7 linked regions of the Homo sapiens genome follow. The protein of the gene in region 1 purifies or fractionates together with the protein of each later gene. This does not show direct contact. Each region holds a gene or a part of one and is shown in the gene's direction. Other genes may lie near its edges.

Region 1 (2,314 bases):
CAGGTCTTTTACAGTTGGAAATAAATAAAAATAATTTCTTTTCATTTTTGTCCTTCAGATTGAAAAACAACTCAACTCAGAGTCACTGTCACAGTGGACTAATCCCAGCACCATGGCCAATGCCAAGGTCAAACTCTCCATTCCAAAATTTAAGGTGGAAAAGATGATTGATCCCAAGGCTTGTCTGGAAAATCTAGGGCTGAAACATATCTTCAGTGAAGACACATCTGATTTCTCTGGAATGTCAGAGACCAAGGGAGTGGCCCTATCAAATGTTATCCACAAAGTGTGCTTAGAAATAACTGAAGATGGTGGGGATTCCATAGAGGTGCCAGGAGCACGGATCCTGCAGCACAAGGATGAATTGAATGCTGACCATCCCTTTATTTACATCATCAGGCACAACAAAACTCGAAACATTATTTTCTTTGGCAAATTCTGTTCTCCTTAAGTGGCATAGCCCATGTTAAGTCCTCCCTGACTTTTCTGTGGATGCCGATTTCTGTAAACTCTGCATCCAGAGATTCATTTTCTAGATACAATAAATTGCTAATGTTGCTGGATCAGGAAGCCGCCAGTACTTGTCATATGTAGCCTTCACACAGATAGACCTTTTTTTTTTTTCCAATTCTATCTTTTGTTTCCTTTTTTCCCATAAGACAATGACATACGCTTTTAATGAAAAGGAATCACGTTAGAGGAAAAATATTTATTCATTATTTGTCAAATTGTCCGGGGTAGTTGGCAGAAATACAGTCTTCCACAAAGAAAATTCCTATAAGGAAGATTTGGAAGCTCTTCTTCCCAGCACTATGCTTTCCTTCTTTGGGATAGAGAATGTTCCAGACATTCTCGCTTCCCTGAAAGACTGAAGAAAGTGTAGTGCATGGGACCCACGAAACTGCCCTGGCTCCAGTGAAACTTGGGCACATGCTCAGGCTACTATAGGTCCAGAAGTCCTTATGTTAAGCCCTGGCAGGCAGGTGTTTATTAAAATTCTGAATTTTGGGGATTTTCAAAAGATAATATTTTACATACACTGTATGTTATAGAACTTCATGGATCAGATCTGGGGCAGCACCCTATAAATCAACACCTTAATATGCTGCAACAAAATGTAGAATATTCAGACAAAATGGATACATAAAGACTAAGTAGCCCATAAGGGGTCAAAATTTGCTGCCAAATGCGTATGCCACCAACTTACAAAAACACTTCGTTCGCAGAGCTTTTCAGATTGTGGAATGTTGGATAAGGAATTATAGACCTCTAGTAGCTGAAATGCAAGACCCCAAGAGGAAGTTCAGATCTTAATATAAATTCACTTTCATTTTTGATAGCTGTCCCATCTGGTCATTTGGTTGGCACTAGACTGGTGGCAGGGGCTTCTAGCTGACTTGCACAGGGATTCTCACAATAGCCGATATCAGAATTTGTGTTGAAGGAACTTGTCTCTTCATCTAATATGATAGCGGGAAAAGGAGAGGAAACTACTGCCTTTAGAAAATATAAGTAAAGTGATTAAAGTGCTCACGTTACCTTGACACATAGTTTTTCAGTCTATGGGTTTAGTTACTTTAGATGGCAAGCATGTAACTTATATTAATAGTAATTTGTAAAGTTGGTTGGATAAGCTATCCGTGTTGCAGGTTCATGGATTACTTCTCTATAAAAAATATGTATTTACCAAAAATTTTGTGACATTCCTTCTCCCATCTCTTCCTTGACCTGCATTGTAAATAGGTTCTTCTTGTTCTGAGATTCAATATTGAATTTTTCCTATGCTATTGACAATAAAATATTATTGAACTACATGTCTTGTTTTTTTTTTCCTATTAAGTTAGACTATTTTGAAATAGAACCAAGCCGTGCGTTTACAAAAGCATCCCTGAAGCAGGCAGATCACAAGGTCAAGAGATTGAGACCATCCTGGCCAACATAGTGAAACCCCGTCTCTACTAAAAATACAAAAATTAGCTGGGCGTGGTGGCGCCCACCTGTAGACCCAGCTACTCAGGAGGCTGAGGCAGGAGAATCGCTTGAACCTGGGAGGCGGAGGTTGCAGTGAGCCAAGATCAGGCCACTGCACTCTAGCCTGGCGACAGAGCAAAACTCCGTCTCAAAAAAAAAAAACAAAACAAAAACTCAAAACATAAAAACAACAAAAACAAAACAAAACAAAAAGAACAAACCCCAAAAAACCCCAAAGCATCCCTGTAGGTAAAATGCTCTTTTGAAGATTGAGGCAGACTAAAAAGAAATAAGAATAATTACTTCCTCTTTTCCCTTGTTTTCCTTTCTTCCTAGCCCTCAG
Region 2 (3,500 bases), on another chromosome or scaffold:
ACAAGAAGTCAGCTATTCCGAGATTTTAAGAAAGAACATTCTAAGCAGAAGAAATAGGTAAAAACTCTGAAATGAGAGCAAGCTTGCCTTCTTGCGAAACAGCAAACAAGTCAGTGTGGCTTGAAGATAGTAAGCGAAAACGGAGACTGGTGGGAGTTGAAATTGGAGAGATAATTGGGAGACAGGACACATTGGCCCTCTCAAGCATAGTGAGGTGTTTGAATTTTGTTTTAAGAGTAAAGGAAATCCACTGAAGGGTAGTCCAAATTCAGGGAATAATTTCTGACTGCATTTTAAGATATTTAGACTGTTTTATGGAGAATAAAGGGGAAGGGCAATACTGGAAATAAGGAGACTAGCTAGGTCTTTGAAATAGCCCAGGTGAAATGTGATGATGGTTTGGCTTGAGATTGTACTGATTGAAATAGTAAGAAATGATCAGGTTTGAGATATCTTATGAAGGTAGAGCTAACAGGTCTCAGATGGAGAAAACTGGGGAATGATTTAAGCAAGAAGATCCCTAGATTTCAGGCCCAACCCAGTAAATGATGGTAGCGGAAAATGAGTTAGGAAAGACAGGAAGAATAGATTAAGCAGGGGTAATTGAATTCTCTTTGGAGTTTGTTATGTTTGTGATACCAGTTAAGACATCAGAATAGTTATTGTTTTGGCAGTTGTATACAATCTGGAGGTCAGAGGAAAGATCACACGTGGAGAAATAAGTTTCAATATAATCAATATATATTCATCAATAGGATTGAATGAGTTTATCTGGGAAGACTGTATATATAGAGAAAGTTCATGGTACAGAATTGCTGAAATACAGATCCATTAGAATATATGTACCAAACAGGCGGGCACAGTGGCCCACGCCTGTAATCCTAGCACTTTGGGACGCTGAGGCGGGTGGATCTCTTGAGGTCAGTAGTTCAAGACCAGCCTGGCCAACATGGTAAAACCCCATCTCTACTAAAATTACAAAATTAATTGGATGTGGTGGTGTGCACTTGTAGTCCCAGCCACTTGGGAGGCTGAGGCATGAAAATCGTCTGAAACCAGGAGGTGGACGTTGCAGTAAGCCAAGATCGTGCCTCTGCACTCCAGTCTCGGTAACAGAGTGAGACTCCCATCTCAAAAAAGAAAACAAACAAACAAACAACAACAACAACAAAATATATATATATGTATTTATGTACCAGTGATAAAACAACACCTGAGATCTGAGAATAAAAGATGATGAGCTCTGTAATCTTAAAATTTACACAGGATAGAACAAGCAATCCGATAATTTAATTTCAGGCCATTTAAAAAATATAAGTAAAGTGGTTGTTAATAAAATATATGTTTGGTTTGTGAAAACCTTTAGTAACTGGTGAATCTGATCACACAAGTAATCAAATATTACATTATAAAATGTGAATATTTAATAACCATGTTTTTTTTTCCAGCACAAATAAAAATTTGCCCATTATGTCAACAGCATCTGTGGAAATCGATGATGCATTGTATAGGTAAGAATCTCATAGAAACTGAAACTTATTTTCCCCATTAATTGTTCTCAAATAATCAAGTAGTCTCTTTGAAGATACCATTCAGCCTATGCAGAATTATATGTGTGTGTGTGTGTGTGTGTGTGTATGTATATATGTATGTGTGTATATATATGTGTGTGTATATATGTGTATATATGTATATGTATATATATGTGTATATGTGTATATATATGTGTGTATATATGTATATGTGTGTGTATATATACACACATATATATAAAGAGTTCCTCTCAAGTTAAAATTAGGGTTTCTGTGATTTTTTTTATCTACATTCGGATAATATTTAAATCTCAGTTGTTTTAGGTTTAGGTGATAGGACTAAGAAGGATTTTGCTGCCCTTGCAAAATAACCCTTTCATTTTTGGACAATAATACGTATTTAAGTTCTTGATAGTGCAGGAGTTGATGAAGAATAATATTTCACTTTAGTCATACAATAACATCTAGAGAATATTACTTCATTGTAATCTCATTAAAATATTTCCTGTTCTGTAATTTATAGACAGTGGAGAAATACTGTGTGATTGAAGAGTTGTAATTTGAATGGAATTTGATGGGACTTTTAAAACTATGCTTTTTCAGGAAATTGGAATACTTTTTTAGTAATTAAAGTATTGTATGATTGAATAGTTGTGATTTGAATGAAATTTGATGAGACTTTTTAAACTATACTTTTTCATGAAATTTGAATACTTTTTAAAGTAAAGAAAAAGATGCAGAGTCAATAATGGGCACTTTATTAGGAGCTAATACATACCATCTGGCATGTTGAGTCCAAATCCTGTTTTGTACTCTATGCTTGGGAAAAGAGATAGAAGACTAACAATCTTGCTCATGTGAAAATTATTTTAAAGATGATTTCTTGATTATAAAATATGGTTTAGAAGTCACCTTAAGTTGTTGTATAAGGGTTAACTGAATTAGTACATTTAAAGCACTTAAAACAGTGTGTAGCACAGGGTTATCTATTATTATTAAATGCCTGGTACTGTTTTAGGTATTTGGATTACAGTAGTGAGTTTTTAAGACCATACATTTTTTTGATAGGAGTGGCAGACAAACAGTTAATGGTAAGTGATTTGAAGAAACTATGACAGGTTAATGAGTTAGGCAGTGACCTAAGGATAAGAGTAGCCATTTTATTGATAGGGTGATCAGAAATGATGTGTGTGATATTTGTAATACAATATTTTAATAGAGGCTTAAGTGATAAGAAGTCAACTATTTCAAGATTTTTAAGAAAGAACATTCTAAGCAGAAGAAATAGTGTAAAATCTCTGAAATGAGAGCAAGCTTGCCTTCTTGCAAAACAGCAAGCAGGTCAGTGTGGCTTGAAGATAATAAGCAAAAAGGGAGAGTGGGACTCTTACGTTGGGATTCTTAATCTATAATTATATTCTTAATGTCCTTTTGGTCATGTTTTTCTTGGTTTAACAAATGGCACCTCTTTGAGATAGTATTGACTAATTTTATTCATTTTTTAGTTTAATCCTTGTGAAACTTTTTTAATGTCCCTCCAACCCTATAATGCTGATAAACATAATTTTCAGTAGGCCAGTGACTAAACTTTCCATTTACAATGCTACGTAAGTAGGCTGCAGTTTGCTTTACTGAGAGTTATAGAATATAGCAGTTTAGCTGTTATTATTAGAGGTAAGCCATTTTCTTTTGTTTGACGGAGAGTATCTTTTGGTGTAGCTGTTAGCACTTGGTATGCGTGTCTTATTGCAAACATCTAGTTGTTTACCAATGTGCATATTTGAGTTTTAATATCTTCCTTAAGAATTTGTCATAGTGAGGGCAGGAAGCCAGAAATTTATGTGGGTACTAAAAGAGTGAATTATTAGGGAATACTAAAAGAGTTACTGACTACATATAGGTTTTCTTAGTAGAAATACAAAGATGTGGCCAGGCACAGTGGCTCATGCCTGTAATCCCAGCACTTTG
Region 3 (3,500 bases), on another chromosome or scaffold:
GTCACCCAGGCTGGAATGCAATGGTACACAATCATAGCTTACTGCAGCCTCGACCTTCCAGGCTCAAGCAGTCCTCTCACTTCAGCCTTCTAAGTAGCTGGGACCATAGGTGCACGCCACCACACCTGGTTAAGTTTTTTTAAAAAAATTTCTTACAAAGTTTTGCTATATGCCCAGGTTGGTCTTGAACTCCAGGGCTCAAAGGATCCTCTCACCCCGGTCTCCCAAAGTGCTGGGATTACAGGCCTTCATGCCCAGCTGTTTTTTTTTGTTTCTGTTTTTGTTTTTTTGCATTTTAATCTAAATTTTAACATTTCAAAATACAGTTTTTAAAATTACAATTTCTACTACAAATTAAAATCCTTTCAAGCATGTTTTTGTATATGTTAACAAAAGTCCGTTGTTAAATATAGTTGAAATGTGCTTTTTCTCTACAAAACACAATATGCTACAACATCTTTTTGGGCAAATAATACGGATGGAGCAAAAAAATTGTAGAATGCTGTCAGGTTTGCCTTATCACATTTGATCCACCTTTAACAGTATTGAAGTTCACTTCAGCTATTAAAAATTCTTTGTTTACAGCTCTGCAGGCAGAATACCTTTGATACTTTGTTAGAAATTGGAACTGAAAATTTTTCGCTTTAATCTTTTCCATGGACCCAATTGTTTTGATTACAAGTGGTTTCTTAGGAATGCTCCTTTTATTAGTCCTTTCTCATGCTGCTAATAAAGACATACCCGAGACTGGGTAATTTATAAAGGAAAGAGGTTTAATTGACTCACAGTTGCGCAGGGATAGGGAGGTCTCAGGAAACCTATAAACATGGTGGAAGGGGAAGCAAACACATCATTCTTCACATGGTGGCAGGAAGGAGAAATGAGAGCGAAGTGAAGGAAAGCCTCCTTATAAAACCATCAGATCTTGTGAGAACTCACTATCACGAGAACAGCATGAGGGCAACCGCCCCCATGATTCGCCGGGTCCCTCTCACAACATGGGAATTATGGGAACTACAAGATGAAATTTGGATGGGGACACAGCCAAACCATATCACTCCTGTTGCTTTCTTAATGGATAGTTTTCATCCTGGGGTGATTTTCAAGATGGTGGATTCCTTTGTTTCGTTTCCAGCAACTCTGGTTCTGAAAATGGGGTATGTGTATCCAGGAATGTGAATTTTGCATATCACCTCTGTGACTCTGATGTAGGTAGTTCATAGACCACGGTTTTCATGAATAGAATGTGCATGGTATTGCATACCTCCATTGTTTTCTTAGAATAAATTACTAGAAGTAATAAGATACTTGGGCAAAGGAACTGTAATTTTACCAGAAATAGGTGTATCTAAATTTTTCTGAACTATGAACTACAAGGAAAATTTTGACACTTGCAGAATGTTATTCTGGCCTTTGTAGTAGTCGTTGTGTACCATATTTGTCCCTGAATGTATGTAATTATATGAAAGCTATGAGTAGAATTTGTATTGAATGACTGTCAAAATTTGCTTATAAATGATAATTTGCTTATAAATCAACTCTGAAAGAGTTGGATTTATCAATCATGTAAAAAAGACTTGGTACCCCTTTCATATGTTCATATTAACAAATGGGGCTAATTATGTTTTATTGAGTACATTTTGATTTGTTCCAGTAGCCGGATCGAGCTGGGAGATGTGACACCACACAATATTAAACAGTTGAAAAGATTGAATCAGGTCATCTTTCCAGTCAGCTACAATGACAAGTTCTACAAGGATGTGCTGGAGGTTGGCGAGCTAGCAAAACTTGGTATAATATAGTTTTTTTTTTGTCCTCCCTTCTTTTCTTTCTTTTTGTTCTTGAACCCTAGTTTTTTATAGAGCAGAAGAAGTTAACTAATTTAGTTTGTTTATTTTATAAGTGAGGAAATGGGAGTGGTCTAGGTTGTGAGAAAAATCTCAGAGAAATCAGTTGAATAAAACAGTTGAATTTTAAAAAGAAATGCTTAGTGTTCTTAGTGTATACCTGTGTGTTTTCACTTTAAGCTATACTCTAGAGGAGGCTTAAACTTCCTAAGATGGCATAAGAGCTTTGAGATCATTGATATTCATGAAATAGTTGATGAAATTTAATGTTGATAGGAACAGTGTAGTCCTTTAAAAGGGAAAAAGATTAAATGTGTTATTCTGTCTGTTCAACATTATATCTTTATGTTTTCCTTGGCAGCCTATTTCAATGATATTGCTGTAGGTGCAGTATGCTGTAGGGTGGATCATTCACAGAATCAGAAGAGACTTTACATCATGACACTAGGATGTCTGGCACCTTACCGAAGGCTAGGAATAGGTAAAAAATTGTGGTTTTTTTACTTCTTCAGAGAAGCATAAACATATTATTTGTTAATGTGTCTGACCTAGTAAGTTAATTTGGGTCTTTTTAAGGAATACTGAGAAAGGGTTACTGAATTATGTAAAATATGGTGAAAAATAACTAGTGTTTATTAACATAATTCTATTGGAAGCCCTACATAGATTTGCTGTTTACGTCCCCTTCTGCTTTTTCTGTTTTTCTTCTACCCGGAAGTGCTTGTTTAAAAAGGTTAGTCTTCTGCTAACAGTTTTAAACATACGTAGCTATTGTAGAGAGAGAACACAACTTTGGAAAATAAGGATATCTAGTGTATACCTCATAAATTCTTTTAGGACTCAATAAGTAGTTCAGATGGCAAGTGGATAGATACATAATTTAAAGGTTGATTTATGAAGTCACGTGTTTGTTATTTATTTTATTAACAGGAACTAAAATGTTAAATCATGTCTTAAACATCTGTGAAAAAGATGGTACTTTTGACAACATTTATCTGTAAGTAAAATAATATTTAATGTTCTTATCAAAGGGGTTTAATTGGCAGGAGAAATCTTTACTAGAAACTTTAAAATCTGGTCACTTATTGTGCCTTTGGAAACACTGTGGAAGTAGTTGTTACAAAGTATTCGAGTAGTTGTTAGTTTTGTTTAGTTTTGTTTTATTAATAATAGTAGATTAGGAACCTGAGATAGAACACATTGCTTTATTATATTAGGATGAGAGCACCAAAGTCACAGGGATGAAATCAGGATTAAAACTCAGGCCTTCAGAATTCAAGACTATTAATACTACTTTTCTCATGCAAAACCTTGTGTGTTTTGTTCAAGGCTATGTTGATAGCTTTGAACATTGTAGTAGATCATTTGTAGTAGAGTTTAATAATCAAAATCAGAGATTACCTAGCTGAGATTGTACTTGAATCTCAAGAGGCTGTAGATAAAGAGTTATGACTAAGATCACAGTCATGGATGTTCATAATTTAGTTTGGCCATGTGAGAGATTGAATTATACAGTGTTATTTTGGGAGTAATTGAGAAAGCTTGCGTTTTTAATTTTTAAAACATACCATGTATTTTATCAATCAGAAGGAAGATATATCTTCAAGCTTTGAGACCCTAGTTTTTTATTTTTCATCATTTTTTTTCTGTGTG
Region 4 (3,500 bases), on another chromosome or scaffold:
GCTCCAGTAATCATGATTATTCATCACCTATTTTCCATCAGGCCCTCTACTGAGGACTTCTACCTGCATTTCACCTTTCATCCTACCCGCAACTCTATAAGCCTGGTAGTATTGCTGTCCCGTCTTGCGGGTGAGGAAACTGAGGCTCAGGGAGGTCAAGTTCACATTAAGTATAACTAAGGGCATGTGTGTGAAGGTTGGGCAGGGCAGAATTTGAAGCCCACTTTCAAACTTATAACTTAATGTGAACTTGACCTCCCTGAATAATGATCAGACCATAAGAATGTATTAATAAACATTTAAGGGACAATTGAATAGAATTTTAAAATCAGAGAGGAGGAGCCATGTTTGTATTGTTCACTTTTGCATTCCTGGCACCTAGCACCTTAGCATAGGATCACTGTTGGGTAAATATTTATTGAATAATGAATGGTTGCCATTTACGAAACCATGTTTACAGTTTTGTGCTCCAGAAGTGAGGTAAAGGGTTGCTTAATGAGAACCCAGTATTTCTACTCAAAAGGACCTTATTGCAAAGTATTTGGAAGTTTAAAAGAGTGGGAACATGGGGACGCATAGGGAGTGGTGAAACTGGCTCAGGGAAAGTCCATTGCAGCAAGATAGAGGTTGCCAAACCGTAAGCAGAACAAGTTGAAACCGCGCCTGTCTGGCAAACAGTCCAAAGTGGAATTGAAACTCCCATCTTTGAAGTGGTGAAAAAAGGCCCTGGGGTGGGGGAGTGGGGCAGAGGGCTGGCGTCTGTCTGCCTGGGTTAGTCTTGGTTCGGGAGTGTCCCGAGCAAGCCTGGGGAGATGACTGCCCCTCGCCTTGATCCCCAACTAACCTGGGGTTCTGGATTATGTGTGGGGAAGAGGGAATGTGTGTGGCATTCCGTGTTTGTCTTGAACTTTACTCCCTGGAATCTTGTAATACAAGCAATGGCATCTGCTTTCCATCGGACATAATCACCTAACCGCAGATTAGCAAGTGAAAGAGCACATGCCGTTGGGATCATCCCAGGCTGCAAAACCGCGCCATTAGCTTGCTCACTCTTTGGGAAAATACGGTGTTCCAGGGACGGGGATTTCCTAGGTAACATGTCCAGTTCTCTCATGCATCAAAGCTTGAACTGAAATCTTTCTAGAATGTATCCTGCCTCCTTAAATCAGAACTACTGAACACAGTTTAGCCTTTCATTGGAGACCCTGGGCAGATGATTACTGAACACAGTTTAGCCTTTCATTGGAGACCCTGGGCAGATGATAACCACCCATTGTCATGAGGTCTGGGGGTGGTGGCCAGAATTTCATTCTCTCCTGGCCTTGGTCTGACCTCCGCCCCCAAGGTCCAGTTGTCCTGCTCTGGGCACTGACCCTGCCCCAGCTCCTGAGCCCCTCGACCACCACAATCACCACTAAGTCTCTGCCTGGCATGGAGAACAAGATAGCCAAGGTGAAGAGGGATCCTGTTACCCTCTAACTCAGTAGTTCTAATTTCTACACAGTAATCTGCCCCATGTTTGGAAAAACGCATGTGAAAGGGTTCGCCACAGCTGTTGCTGGAATGGCGATCACTTGTCCTAAAAGTGCATTTGTAGGAAATCGTTAAATAAACCATGGCCTGACCGTGTTGAGGAACGCTATGTGGCTTAACATGAGGCAGAGCTGCCTGTGGAATAACGTCCAAGAGAAACTGAGAAAAGCGAGTTAGCAAACAGCAAGTCTATTACCCCCACTTAGAAAGGACACGGCAGTGTCCCGGTTCTCTGGTCTCCTGGGTCCTCCCAGCATCAAGTGCAGATCCTGGCACACAGCAGGTAGAATCGCGAGCCCCCCGCTCTCCCCTCACCTACACCCTGCAGCCACTCCTCCTGTCCCCAGGCTCTTCCTAGCAGTCACCCTTCAGACCCCTCAGCTGGCCAAGCCTCCTCCTGCTTCTCACTTGCTTGGTTTTGCTTGTTTCCTGCGCCCTCTCCTCACCAGGACTTCAGCTCCCACAAGCCAGGACTTGGCTCTTGGACTCCCTGTGCTGGAGTGGCCAGGGCTGTCAGTGAAAGCTTATGGAATGCGTGGGTGAATGAATCCAATTTTTACAAAACAAAGTGAGATGTATTTATTAAAATATGTAGGAATTAGAGTATTTTGATAGAAAATCTTTATGTTTTGCCTACAGTCTAGATTGAAAATGTCAACTCCAGACATCACTGTGCTTCTGGAAACTATAAAGAGGAAGTGGGAGCTAGGACATCCCCCCACCACGCCCCGCCCAAGAGCGTTTACGTGTGTTATGTAAGTCGAGCTTCGGGTTTCTGGTCAGGAGGTTATAAAGCATTTGGCCCAGAGTCTGGCCTGGTGTTTATTCAGGAAAACTGCTCCTCACTTGAAGCAGAACTTTGGCAGAAACTCAGTGTGAGAACAGTTCCTACCCAGCCCCCCACCGGGGAGGGAAGCCACTGAGTCTGGCTCTGGGAGAAGGGAAATGGGAAATGTAAACCGGAGGAGGTTTCCAGCGTCCTACAGCAGACCCAGGTTTATCTTATCAGTGGAGAAGGGAGGATGGGTTGTTGAAAATGCAGCCTGGTTCAACAGTGAAGGGTGATTGAGAACATTCTGGGCTTTGAAAGGCAAACATGCCAGGGAGTGGTCTTTCCAGGATCCTAATCTAAATCAGAGGGGCCAGCCCAGCGAGGAAGGGGTGGGGCTGGTGGGGTTTTAGCCAGACTGGCCCACCTCTCCCCTTCCTACTTCCTGATCTTTGCAAAATAAAGTTTAAAATCCAGGACAATTTAGTATGCTTTGGTGCAGGGAACAACATAAAGAGTATAGACCTGGCCCTCGCTCCTAAGAATCTTTAAGCTACGAGAGAGCTGCAGGATCTAGAACACTGCAGGACCCCCTGCGGGCAAGGTCCTAGCTTAGGAACTGTACACTCGTTCTTGCATTTAACCTTCACATCAGCCCCCAGAAGTACTCGATGAGGCATCTGGGAAGTGAAGGGATTTGCCCAGGGTCAAATCTGTGAGGGATGGAGTCAGAATTCAAACCCAGGCCGGGCATGGTGGCGCACAGCTGTAATCCCAGCACTTTAGGAGTCCAAGGCAGGAGGATCACTTGAGCACAGGAGTTTGGGACCAGCCTGGCCAACATGGTGAAAGCCCATCTCTACAAAAAATACAAAAAAAATCCCACCTTTATTTAAGAAAAAAAATTCAAACCCAGATCTGTTTGGCTTTGAGGTTGGTGCTTTTTACAACATTCAGAATAAAATTTTTTTTTTTTTTGAGACTCTGTTGCCCAGGCTGGAGTACAGTGGTGCAATCTTGGTTCACTGCAACCTCCATCTCCTAGGTTCAAGCAATTCTCCTGCCTCAGCCTGTCGAGTAGCTGGGATTACAGGCAAGTGACACCATGCCCAGCTAATTTTTGCATTTTTAGTAGAGACAGGGTTTCACCATGTTGTCCAGGCTGGTCTCGAACTCCTGACCTCAAATGATCCACCTG
Region 5 (3,500 bases), on another chromosome or scaffold:
AACTGGTGTGGCACCAGATGTCTTCGCTGAAAACATGAAGCTCAGAGAGGACACCCATCATTTGGGTAAAAATATTAAATGTTCTTTAAGTTAACCCATTTGGAGGGCTGATATCATTAAGGATGCTACATATACGATAAGGATATCAAGACTTTACTCAGTACTAATCTGATGTCAGTGAAAATTATTGGGATATATGAAACTTATCTTTAGCTTTATTACCAGATGAATTGTATATCATAACTAATTGTAGATATTCTCTCCCTTTCCTTTAGTCAACTATATTCCCCAGGGTTCAATAGATTCACTCTTTGAAGGAACGTGGTACTTAGTTAGGGTGGATGAAAAGCACAGAAGAACTTACGCTCGGCGTCCCACTCCAAATGATGACACTTTGGATGAAGGAGTAGGACTTGTGCATTCAAACATAGCAACTGAGGTAAATAAAAGAGTTCCCATCTCCATATCTTAGGGTTTAGGAGACCTAACTGGGATTTAGCAACATAAATAAATGTCAGTAAAGAAGAGTAAGGGCTCTGGGAGTAGATTCTAGCTGTACTATTTCCAATTGTATAAAGTGCTTTGCATTTGAATTATTAATATTTTAAGAATATACAGTAAAGGCCGGGTGCGGTGGCTCACGCCTGTAATCCCAGCACTTTGGGAGACTGAGGCAGGCAGATCACGAGGTCAGGAGATCAAGACCATCCTGTCCAACATGGTGAAACCCTGTCTCTACTAAAAATACAAAAATTAGTTGGGCTTGGTGGCACGTGCCTGTAATTCCAGCTACTCAGGAGGCTGAGTCAGGAGAATGGCTTGAACCAGGGAGTCAGAGGTTGCAGTAAGCTGAGATCACACCACTGCACTCCAGCCTGGCGACAGAGCAAGATTCCATCTCAAAAAAAAAAAAAAAAAAAAAAAAGAATATACAGTAAATACTAGGTTTTATTAATGATACCAGGATTTAAAGGAAGACTGATATAGAGAGAAGGTTCATTTGTGGTGTGTGTCTTTGTGAGAGATGGAGTAGAGGGACAAGGATCCTTTCACATCTCATCCCAGATCATGGTCAAAATCTGTCCTCAAATTGTCAAGAAGTAACAATCATAGCTATGATTTGAATTCCTGTTACCTGCTAGGCACTTTACTTACGTTTTCTTATTTAATCCTTACAACAACCTCCTTGAAGTTTATAAATGATACTGTCCTCCCTTTAGAGATGAGCCTCCAAGAAGTTACATTACTTGCCCAGGATTATAGGTAGTAAGTATTAAAGCCAGGTTATAAACTAAGGACTTTATAACCTTGAAACTACTTATTTATCTGCTTACTACAAGTTTGGTAAATGGATAGTCTTGCTTTTTGCTATTATACAAATTAGGTAGCAAGTCAAACCGCCACTGTTTGAGTTGCAAATACAAGACGTAACAAGTAAAATACTGTTACGTGGTGGGTCTCTGTGGCAGGCTTCCTCTCCCCCCCATATGGATAATTGTATACTAAATTCACCATAAGGTGAAAAATGGATATTGAGTTCCCTTCATGAAAAGTTATATAAAATATATATTTAGCATAAACTTCTCCAGAGTTGTCCTTTATTAAGTTTCTTTACAGAAACTTTAATTGGTGCCATGATTCTTGTGGGGGAAAGAATCATAAGAGCCATCAACTTTTTTCCTTTCATTTTAGCATATTCCAAGCCCTGCCAAGAAAGTACCAAGACTCCCTGCCACAGCAGCAGAACCTGAAGCAGCTGTCATTAGTAATGGGGAACATTAAGATACTCTGTGAGGTGCAAGACTTCAGGGTGGGGTGGGCATGGGGTGGGGGTATGGGAACAGTTGGAGGAATGGGATATCTGGGGATAATTTTAAAGGATTACATGTTATGTAAATTTTTATGTGACTGACATGGAGCCTGGATGACTATCGTGTACTTGGGAAAGTCTCTTTGCTCTATTTGCTGACATGCTTCCTGTTGTGGTCTGGCCAATGCCAAATGTACTCGAATGATGTTAAGGGCTCTGTAAAACTTCATACCTCTTTGGCCATTTGTATGCATGATGTTTGGTTTTTAAACATGGTATAATGAATTGTGTACTTCTGTCAGAAGAAAGCAGAGGTACTAATCTCCAATTAAAAAATTTTTTAACATGTAAGAATTTTGTACTTTGAACAACAAGATTACAGAAAGTACCTGTGGTTTTTGGAAAACATTTCTAGCTTGGGGAATGTGACAACATTCCCCAGTGTGGTAAAATTGGGGTAAAATGTGGTAAAATGTGATACGCACAAACCCTTTGAAAATAGCAAAACAAACATGCCCTTTTTCTAAAATTGATAAATCCTAAAGAGGAAGAAAAGAGCTGGGACAATAAAACACTGGCTCTGGAATCTGGAATGTTAAGTCCAGGCCAGCAGTGACAAAAGTTATTGTAATGACCTCTGAACAGAGAAACACTGCCATTGAAGAGGCTTCTGGTATAGAAAACATGGTACATTCAGGAGCTGTGAATATAGCTCTAGGTGTGCTCCTGAATCAGTTCATGGTAGATTATGCTGAACAACAGTGAGATGTTATTGGAGGTGTGGATGAGGGAGTTTGTTGTTGCAGTCCTTCTTTGCACCTTATTTTAAAGAATAAATGAAACATTTTTCTGGTTACTTTTTTAAAAATTTAAAATGGAAGGGAAGAATAGGGGCAGGGCATTATTAGGCTATTTCTGATGCTTCAGTGTTATAAATTCAACATAGAGGCTGACAACCTAAATTCATGGTGTAACACAGCTCTTTTCCTTTTCCTTTTTTTTTTTTTTTTGGTATCTGTTCAATGAAAATAAGGTATGACCCAAGTTTTTACCTAGTCTGACTAGAAGTATTCCACTTCAAGGTCTGAAGTAGGACTTTTACCTTAAAAAACAACAACAAACAAAACTATCACACAGGATAGATAAGAAGATTGGTTAAACAGTTTTGTGTAGATCTTTTTGGTGCTGAACTATGACATGAGCCTTATAGATTGTAAAATAGGGATAGTTGGAACTAATGTACAGAACTAAATTTTTTAAACTTTATTTGCTGTTAAATTCTGTGAAGTTTCAGTTATCTAAAATAAATATACACAAATATGAAATATAATGTTTCAGATTGCAAGGTAATATGTAATAGTAGTGTTTGTAAGATACTCTTGTCTAATATTAACTAGTAGTATTTTGATTTGTACAGTCATAATTTGTTAAAATGACTTCATTTAACATTCACTGATGTAGATTAATAATGTAAGTTCTGATTTAAAGAATGGTGGCAAAATGGTGCATGTAATACTTTTGCAAGTGTTGGGGAGATCGGTATGTTTTGAAAAGAGTAATTTAACTTTTGGGTGCCAGGAAATGGGTTTTCTCAAAGTCCATTGCCGGCAATGGGCAGGCCTGCAAATACTGGCACAGAGCATTAATCATACACCTTATTAACGGTGAGGTGAATAACTTTGAAATAAAG
Region 6 (3,500 bases), on another chromosome or scaffold:
CCATATCCACATTCTGCAGTAGCAGGCCAAGGTTGATCTTTTCCTTCTAATAGGCTCTAAGACCACTTTATTTCAGCGATTGAAGAGAGGATAACTGACATTTATCAAATACCTACCATGTGCCTGGCACTCTTCTCTTAAAACCAATTACTGAGAGTTGGGTGGTATAATCCCATTACTTGCCTAAGCTCACACTGCAAGTAAATGACTGAGTAGAAATTGAAGCCTACATTTGTCTTGCTCCTACCCCATGCTTTTTCCACTGTGTTACTGTATCTCACCAGGAGGAGACTACAGTGAGTAGTATTGGTGTGTAGTTATAGTGATCTTTGATAATGTATTCAGAGTTTAACATGTTCCTTTTAGGTTCTCTCATCAATCTGATTTAATTTACTCTTTTTTTTAGACACAATTGCAAATAAATTGCATTTGCAAAAAATTAATGATTTTGTATTATCACCTGGACCCCAACCATACAAGGTAATTGCTGTTTTTGTTTATGTGTAATATTATGTGTTTAAACCTTTTCCTAGTTTTTTGTGATTGTAAAAACATGTCCATCTCAGTTTTTATTCTTCAAAAAATTAAGTAATGATTTATGTCTATGTATCTTAGGTGGCTGTCTATGTTCCAGGAAGTAAAGGTGCACCTTCATTTGTTAGATTATATCAGTACCCCAACTTTGCTGGACCTCATGCAGCTTTAGCTAATAAAAGTTTCTTTAAGGCAGATAAAGTTACAATGCTGTGGAATAAAAAAGGTATGTTAAGTATATTTTATCCCTCCCTTTGTTTATCAGTTGTTAATTTAGGCTATATTCCTATGTGTATAACAGAAGAATCAATGCCCATTTGTGTTTTAAATCTAATTAAAGTTTTTACTGTTATAGCTACTGCTGTGTTGGTAATAGCTAGCACAGATGTTGACAAGACAGGAGCTTCCTACTATGGAGAACAAACTCTACACTACATTGCAACAAATGGAGAAAGTGCTGTAGTGCAATTACGTGAGTATTCCAGCAGTCTTCCTTTGATTAGAAACAATGATAGTAAAAAATACTATGCCATAAAGATGATATAATCTAAATTCTTGATCAAAAGATAGAATTCATATGCCTTAATAACCTTTAAGATAAAATTTTTCTTAATTAAGAAACTTAAAAATCATCCTCCAACATACCTTATTTTGGCAGAATACAATTAGTTATTTGAGTTACGCCATCGTTTTAGAAGTGAACTTCCTGAGTAAGGTAATTCCATTGTAGTAGCTCTTTTGGAACTTACTTAGCTAATTATGACGGCAAATTGCTTAATACTGTCTTTAGAATTGTTAGTAATATGCAAGAGGCCAGGCATGGTGGCTCGTGCCAGTAATTCCAACACATTTTGGGAGTCTGAGATGGGAGGATCATTTGAACTCAGGAGTTCAAGACCAGCCTGATCAACATAGTGAGACCCTACCTCTACAAAAAATAGAAAAAGTTAGCCAGGCATGGTGGCGTATGCCTGTAGTCCCAGCTCCTCAGGAGACTGAGGCAGGAGGATCACTTGAGCCCAGAAGTTCAAGGCTGCAGTGAGCTATGATCATGTCACTGTACTTCAGCCTGGGTGAAAGAGCGAGACCCTGTCTCAAAATAATAATATCCAAGAATGTTACCACTTCATCTGTTGTTTTAATGAACTAAAACTTTAAAATAATAGTTTTAAAATACTGATAGCGTCCTAATTTTCTCATTTTGAATTGAACATGTGTAAGTAGGGTAATCTATGTTTTAAAAAAACTATTTCCATTGAAGTCAGAGAAAAAACAAGGATGGCTCCCCTTTTCACTTTATTTTAATAACATTCTGAAATACCTAGTCACTATAATCAGCAGAAGTAAAATATATACAGTTTTGAAAGAAAACAAAATCATCTCTGCTCATGTAGATGAAGTCACACTATAACAGCTACTTTAAAAAAATGAAAGATTCCATATATAGCAAAAATAATAAGAACAAATATATAGGGCCAATGAGAAGAAAACTTTAAAACTCTTCAGAGAGACAAACTATGACCTTTACTAAGAAGAATTATTTTTATAAAGATGTCATTTCTCTCTTGTCAGTCTAAAACTAAATTTAAATGCTAACTGATTTTTTTTTTTTAACTAAATAAACTGGCTGTAAGGTTGGTGTTGAAAAATGAACACACAAGAATATTTTGGAAACTTGTGTAAAAGAAGAGCAGGGCAGGGGAAGTTATCTGGAGTTCTGACACTACCAGATATTAAAATGTACCCAGCACTTTGGGAGGTTGAGGCGGGCAGATCATGAGGTCAGGAGATCAAGACCATCCTGGCTAACATGGTGAAACCCCATCTTTACTAAAAATACAAAAATTAGTTGGGTGTGGTGGTACATGCCTGTAATCCTAGCTACTCGGGAGGCTGAGGCATGAGAATTGCTTGAACCCAGGAGTGGGAGGTTGCAATGAGCCAAGATCGTGCCACCGCACTCCAGCCCGCTGACAGGGTGAGACTCTGTCACAAAAAAAAAAAAAGTAAGCCAATTGTAATTAAGACAGTTTGGTTGTGGTATATGGATATACTGGTAAAACTGATAAATCAGTGGAAGAGAACAGAGTCCAGAAGTAGATCCATACTTTTGTAGACATTAATATATAATAAAGTCAGCATTTGAATCAATGGAGGAGAAAATATTGATCATTTAATATGTGGTTTGGGATAACTGGCTAGCCATTCGAAACAAAAGGTTATTATCTTCTTCACAAAATAAATTCTGGTTGGGTCAAAAACTTATACATAAGACTGCAGAGGAATTAGAAGAATATATGGGAGAATTTTTTTTCTAATCTTAAGAGTAGAAAAAGACTTTTTAAACAAGATAGAAGTACTAAGGGGAAAAAATAATGAATTTGACTAGAGAAGAATAATGGATTATTACAATGAGAGAAGAAAAGAGTCCATAAATTAAGCAAAATGAACAAAAAGTTGGGGAAAATATGTTTTTTAAATAGTCAAGTGATAAGTATGAGGAAGGTCAAATTTTCTTAATATATCAAGTAAGCCAAGTAAAAGACCAATAATTGGAGAAAAATAAAATAGGCATAGGATAGTAAAAATTAGTCCTCAGAGCCGGTGCAGTGGCTCATGCATATAATCCCAACTATCTAGGAGGCTGAGGTGGGAGGATTGTATGAGCCGAGAAATTTGAGGCTGCAGCAAGCTAAGATCCTACGGCTGTACTGCAGTCTTGGTGACAAAATGAGACCATCTCTTTAAAAAAAAAAAGAAGAAGAAAAAAAATCAGCCCATAGAAAAAGAAATAAAATTACTTACAGTAAAAGATGCTTAACTTATAATTTAAAAAATACAAATGAAAACAAGATAGACATTTTCACTTAGTAGGCTGATGAAGATAAAAATATGAAACTACACAGTATAGTTGAAGGATAGTGAGGGGGAAGCCTGCATCATCAAAAACTGCTGACAGAGGCTGG
Region 7 (3,500 bases), on another chromosome or scaffold:
TTGACAATAGTGGGTATGTCAGTGACTATGAACTTCAAGACCTGTTTAAGGAAGCAAGCCTTCCTCTGCCTGGCTACAAGGTGCGCGAGATTGTGGAGAAAATTCTATCAGTTGCTGACAGCAACAAAGATGGCAAAATCAGTTTTGAAGAGTTTGTGTCAGTAAGTAATCTAATCCTTTCGGGCTACTGATAATCTTGCTTAGAGCAGAATTGTAGTAATGTCATCACTAGCTTTGGTTAAATCCAGCTTCAGAGACCAGAAAAAGGACTGCTTTAAAATGATGATGATGATGATGACAATAACTATTATTATCGAAATAATTTCCACAACTAATTCATAAAACAAAGGAAAAAATTATTCTCAAATTGTTGGAATGGAAATCAGGTTTAGATAATAGTAATTCATTCCCTAGAATAACTAGGTGAGTTCAATGCTTATTGACCATTAATATAATTGAATAAATATTTATGAAATATAAATTGTCTGGTTTTGCATTCTTTATTGATTAAGCAGGTATTTTAGCTCTTCTCTTCCTAGAAATTTTGCTAGGCACTGTGAGTAATGTGATGAGTAAAAAGAAACGTGATTCCTGTCTTCATGGAGTTTATATGTGTGGAGAAGACTGCATTGCACAAATTGATAAAAGATAATTGGAGAATTGCTATGACAGAGTGGTACAGGTCCTGTGAGAGTTTGTGGTAGAAGGAATTGAATTTGGAGGCAAGGCTGGATAACCCAGGGACTCAGGGAAGGTATCCCTACAGTGTGAAGACTGTGATGTGTTCTGAAGAAAGATGTTAAACAGATAAAAGTGGGTTGTGGGAAAATGAATAATGTAGGAGGCAGGTAGACATGACAGCATGTGTAGAGTCCCTGTGGCTTTAGAGATGGTGAATATTCTCAAGCAACTGAAAGAAGGTTTGTGTGACTGGAGCTGAGATGGTAAGGGTAAGGAATGTAGCTGGAGAAGTAACTCAGAATCAGGTCACACAGGGCCATGTCGAATTTTTGTTTTTATCCTAAAAGCAATAGGAAGACAATGAAGTGGGAAGAATAGAATGTGAAGTGACAAGATCAGATTTGCATTTAAAAAAAAACCCAATCACTTTGCTGCAAGCAGAACTGATTGAATTGAGTCTTGCCAATCTCTGGTGAGTCCAGTGAGAGAGTGATTGGGAAAGGGAGTTTCTGTAAGCCTATGTTATTTCCTCTAAGAGCTGACTTATTTTATCATGAATGCATTTGAGATGTTCAGGCAGGAAAATATCTTCATTAAGGCATTCTTCTATCTTTAGCATGTAGTTAGTTATTTCTTAGGTTTTCAGTACAAAAGATTATGGCAAGCCAAGAAGAATAATTTCAGTGTGTTCAATTTAAGCTTAGTTATAAAAAATTTATTCCACCGTTTGGGGTTCAAGTATTTGTCTATTTTGTGTTATTGGTAAAATGATGAAAGTTATCTGTGTATACAAGCAATAAGTACAACTGACTAGTATTTAATTTGGTGTCATTTCAAATAAAGAAGTGTAAATAAATATCCATTTTGTCAGGTTTTTATTGATTATCTGATTCTCAATTTTACTTATGTTCCATTCCAGCTAATGCAAGAATTAAAAAGCAAAGATATCAGCAAAACATTCCGAAAAATAATTAACAAGAGGGAAGGGATTACTGCTATTGGAGGAACTTCAACTATTTCCAGTGAGGGCACACAGCATTCTTATTCAGGTAACTGACTTCTCCAAATTTGATCTTTTAGTCACTGATTCATTGATTAAGTGACATATTTAATCAGTTCTAAGATGCCACTCATTGTGATTCATACCGTTATTTTATGTGCCACTGAGGAGAAAAAAATACTGCAGACCACAGTATAACATGCCATTGAATTTGAAATACATCTCAGTTTCACAGATGTCAAAATGAAAAATCCTAGAATCATTGAAATCAATGAGTTCCTGCTGTGTATCAGGCTCAGTCTACAGAAACAAGATTATAAACAACAAAGTGGAAGTTGTTTATACTCCAGCATTAGATGTATTTAAAAGTGGCTTTTCAATGGCTTTTCATCCTGACTGATGAGGTGGCTTTACTTTTAGACCTGAGCTAGGAATGGGGGAGAGGCTTCTATCACAAGGATTTTTCTCTTCCATTTTCTGAGATCTGAGATACCCGATTCACCTTTTATCTAGTAACCAAGTGACTAGAGAGCATAGCACCTGATTTGCTTGATCTGATTAAACCACTGGACCATTGCCCAGTGGGAAATGCAGAAGCATATCAACTTTTAAGATGAGGTGTCTTCCCCGTGTTAAGTTATCTAAGATGTCTAAGAACCTTTGGCCAAGTTCTTTTTATTTATATGAACATAACTAGAACTATGCTTTTTGGCCTTTTGACAAAATTACCTGTAACCTTTTCCCCTCTTTCTTCATTTCAGATCTGAATCTGTTAATTATCCTCTTGATTCTGTCCCTTCCTAATTGGATTTTCCTCTAGCGATACACTCAAATTTCTCTCATCTATTATATGTTTTTCCTAACTTTTTCCCACTAGGGAAGCAGCCATAAAGGCAAAGGTCCATAACTGTTACCTTCACTTTTTGAAAGGTATTCACCCCTTAACCCAGTTTCTGCCTGTCAATTCTACTGAAGTGGCTTCTTTTTAAAGACAAAAAAAAATTATTAAGGTATAATACACATTCAGCAAAGTGCTATAATCTTAAGTATATGGCTCAATGAATTTTTCCATGTGTATATACATTCATGTAGCTGCCAACCAGAACAAGACATGGAATCTTTTCATCACCTGAAGACTCCCTCATTCCCCTGATAGTAACTATTCTTCCCTAGAGGTAACCTCTTTTCTGATATTTGTCACCATAAATTTTTGTTTACTTATTTTTTGAGGTATAAGATACTTGTAGTAAAGTGCATGAAGTGTACTTTTTTTTTTTTTTTTTTTTTGAGATGGCGTCTCGCTCTGTCGTCCAGGCTGGAGTGCAGTGGTGCGATCTCGGCTCACTGCAAGCTCCACTTCCCAGGTTCACGTCATTCTCTTGCCTCAGCCTCCTGAGTAGCTGGGACTACAGGTGCCCGCCAACACGCCCAGCTAATGTTTTTGTATTTTTAGTAGAGTCAGGGTTTCACCGTGTTAGCCAGGATGGTCTCGATCTCCTGACCTCATGATCCACCCGCCTTGGCCTCCCAAAGTGCTGGGATTACAGGCATGAGCCACCACACCAGGCTGAAGTGTACTATTCTTAAGTATATGGCTTGATGATTTCTTTTAACCTATGAATACACCTATATAACTATTCTCTAGAAAAATATATGGAATATTTAATGGCTTTTATAAAAAATAGCAGCTTTATTGAGATATAATTGACATACCATGGAATACATTTTTAAAGTATACAGTTCAGTAGTTTTTAGTGTATTCATAGTTGTGCAATTGTCATCACTATTTAATTTCAGAACACTTTCATTACACCAAAGA

What was found.
Region 2: the proteins of SERPINB5 (region 1) and UBA6 purify together in Homo sapiens (affinity purification with mass spectrometry, with the first as the bait; one large-scale study listed by BioGRID). This does not show direct contact.
Region 3: the proteins of SERPINB5 (region 1) and NAA50 purify together in Homo sapiens (affinity purification with mass spectrometry; 3 studies listed by BioGRID and IntAct, with this or other methods). This does not show direct contact.
Region 4: the proteins of SERPINB5 (region 1) and ALDH2 purify together in Homo sapiens (affinity purification with mass spectrometry; 3 studies listed by BioGRID and IntAct, with this or other methods). This does not show direct contact.
Region 5: the proteins of SERPINB5 (region 1) and HMGCS1 purify together in Homo sapiens (affinity purification with mass spectrometry; 3 studies listed by BioGRID and IntAct, with this or other methods). This does not show direct contact.
Region 6: the proteins of SERPINB5 (region 1) and EIF2A purify together in Homo sapiens (affinity purification with mass spectrometry; 3 studies listed by BioGRID and IntAct, with this or other methods). This does not show direct contact.
Region 7: the proteins of SERPINB5 (region 1) and PLS1 purify together in Homo sapiens (affinity purification with mass spectrometry; 3 studies listed by BioGRID and IntAct, with this or other methods). This does not show direct contact.

Annotation. Positions count from the first base shown.
Region 1 is NC_000018.10:63,503,272-63,505,585, forward strand, and holds the end of SERPINB5 (serpin B5), read left to right. Parts: intron 1-58; coding exon 59-451; 3' UTR 452-1,814; downstream 1,815-2,314. UniProt on the Homo sapiens protein: Tumor suppressor. It blocks the growth, invasion, and metastatic properties of mammary tumors.
Region 2 is NC_000004.12:67,694,656-67,698,155, reverse strand, and holds part of UBA6 (ubiquitin-like modifier-activating enzyme 6), read left to right. Parts: intron 1-1,448; coding exon 1,449-1,511; intron 1,512-3,500. UniProt on the Homo sapiens protein: Activates ubiquitin by first adenylating its C-terminal glycine residue with ATP, and thereafter linking this residue to the side chain of a cysteine residue in E1, yielding a ubiquitin-E1 thioester and free AMP.
Region 3 is NC_000003.12:113,722,250-113,725,749, reverse strand, and holds part of NAA50 (N-alpha-acetyltransferase 50), read left to right. Parts: intron 1-1,654; coding exon 1,655-1,791; intron 1,792-2,208; coding exon 2,209-2,328; intron 2,329-2,777; coding exon 2,778-2,844; intron 2,845-3,500. UniProt on the Homo sapiens protein: N-alpha-acetyltransferase that acetylates the N-terminus of proteins that retain their initiating methionine. Has a broad substrate specificity: able to acetylate the initiator methionine of most peptides, except for those with a proline in second position.
Region 4 is NC_000012.12:111,773,433-111,776,932, forward strand, and holds part of ALDH2 (aldehyde dehydrogenase, mitochondrial isoform 1 precursor), read left to right. Parts: intron 1-3,500. UniProt on the Homo sapiens protein: Required for clearance of cellular formaldehyde, a cytotoxic and carcinogenic metabolite that induces DNA damage.
Region 5 is NC_000005.10:43,289,413-43,292,912, reverse strand, and holds part of HMGCS1 (hydroxymethylglutaryl-CoA synthase, cytoplasmic), read left to right. Parts: coding exon 1-65; intron 66-275; coding exon 276-439; intron 440-1,692; coding exon 1,693-1,782; 3' UTR 1,783-3,500. UniProt on the Homo sapiens protein: Catalyzes the condensation of acetyl-CoA with acetoacetyl-CoA to form HMG-CoA, which is converted by HMG-CoA reductase (HMGCR) into mevalonate, a precursor for cholesterol synthesis.
Region 6 is NC_000003.12:150,567,287-150,570,786, forward strand, and holds part of EIF2A (eukaryotic translation initiation factor 2A), read left to right. Parts: intron 1-406; coding exon 407-480; intron 481-615; coding exon 616-760; intron 761-889; coding exon 890-1,006; intron 1,007-3,500. UniProt on the Homo sapiens protein: Functions in the early steps of protein synthesis of a small number of specific mRNAs. Acts by directing the binding of methionyl-tRNAi to 40S ribosomal subunits.
Region 7 is NC_000003.12:142,669,393-142,672,892, forward strand, and holds part of PLS1 (plastin-1), read left to right. Parts: coding exon 1-161; intron 162-1,600; coding exon 1,601-1,730; intron 1,731-3,500. UniProt on the Homo sapiens protein: Actin-bundling protein. In the inner ear, it is required for stereocilia formation. Mediates liquid packing of actin filaments that is necessary for stereocilia to grow to their proper dimensions.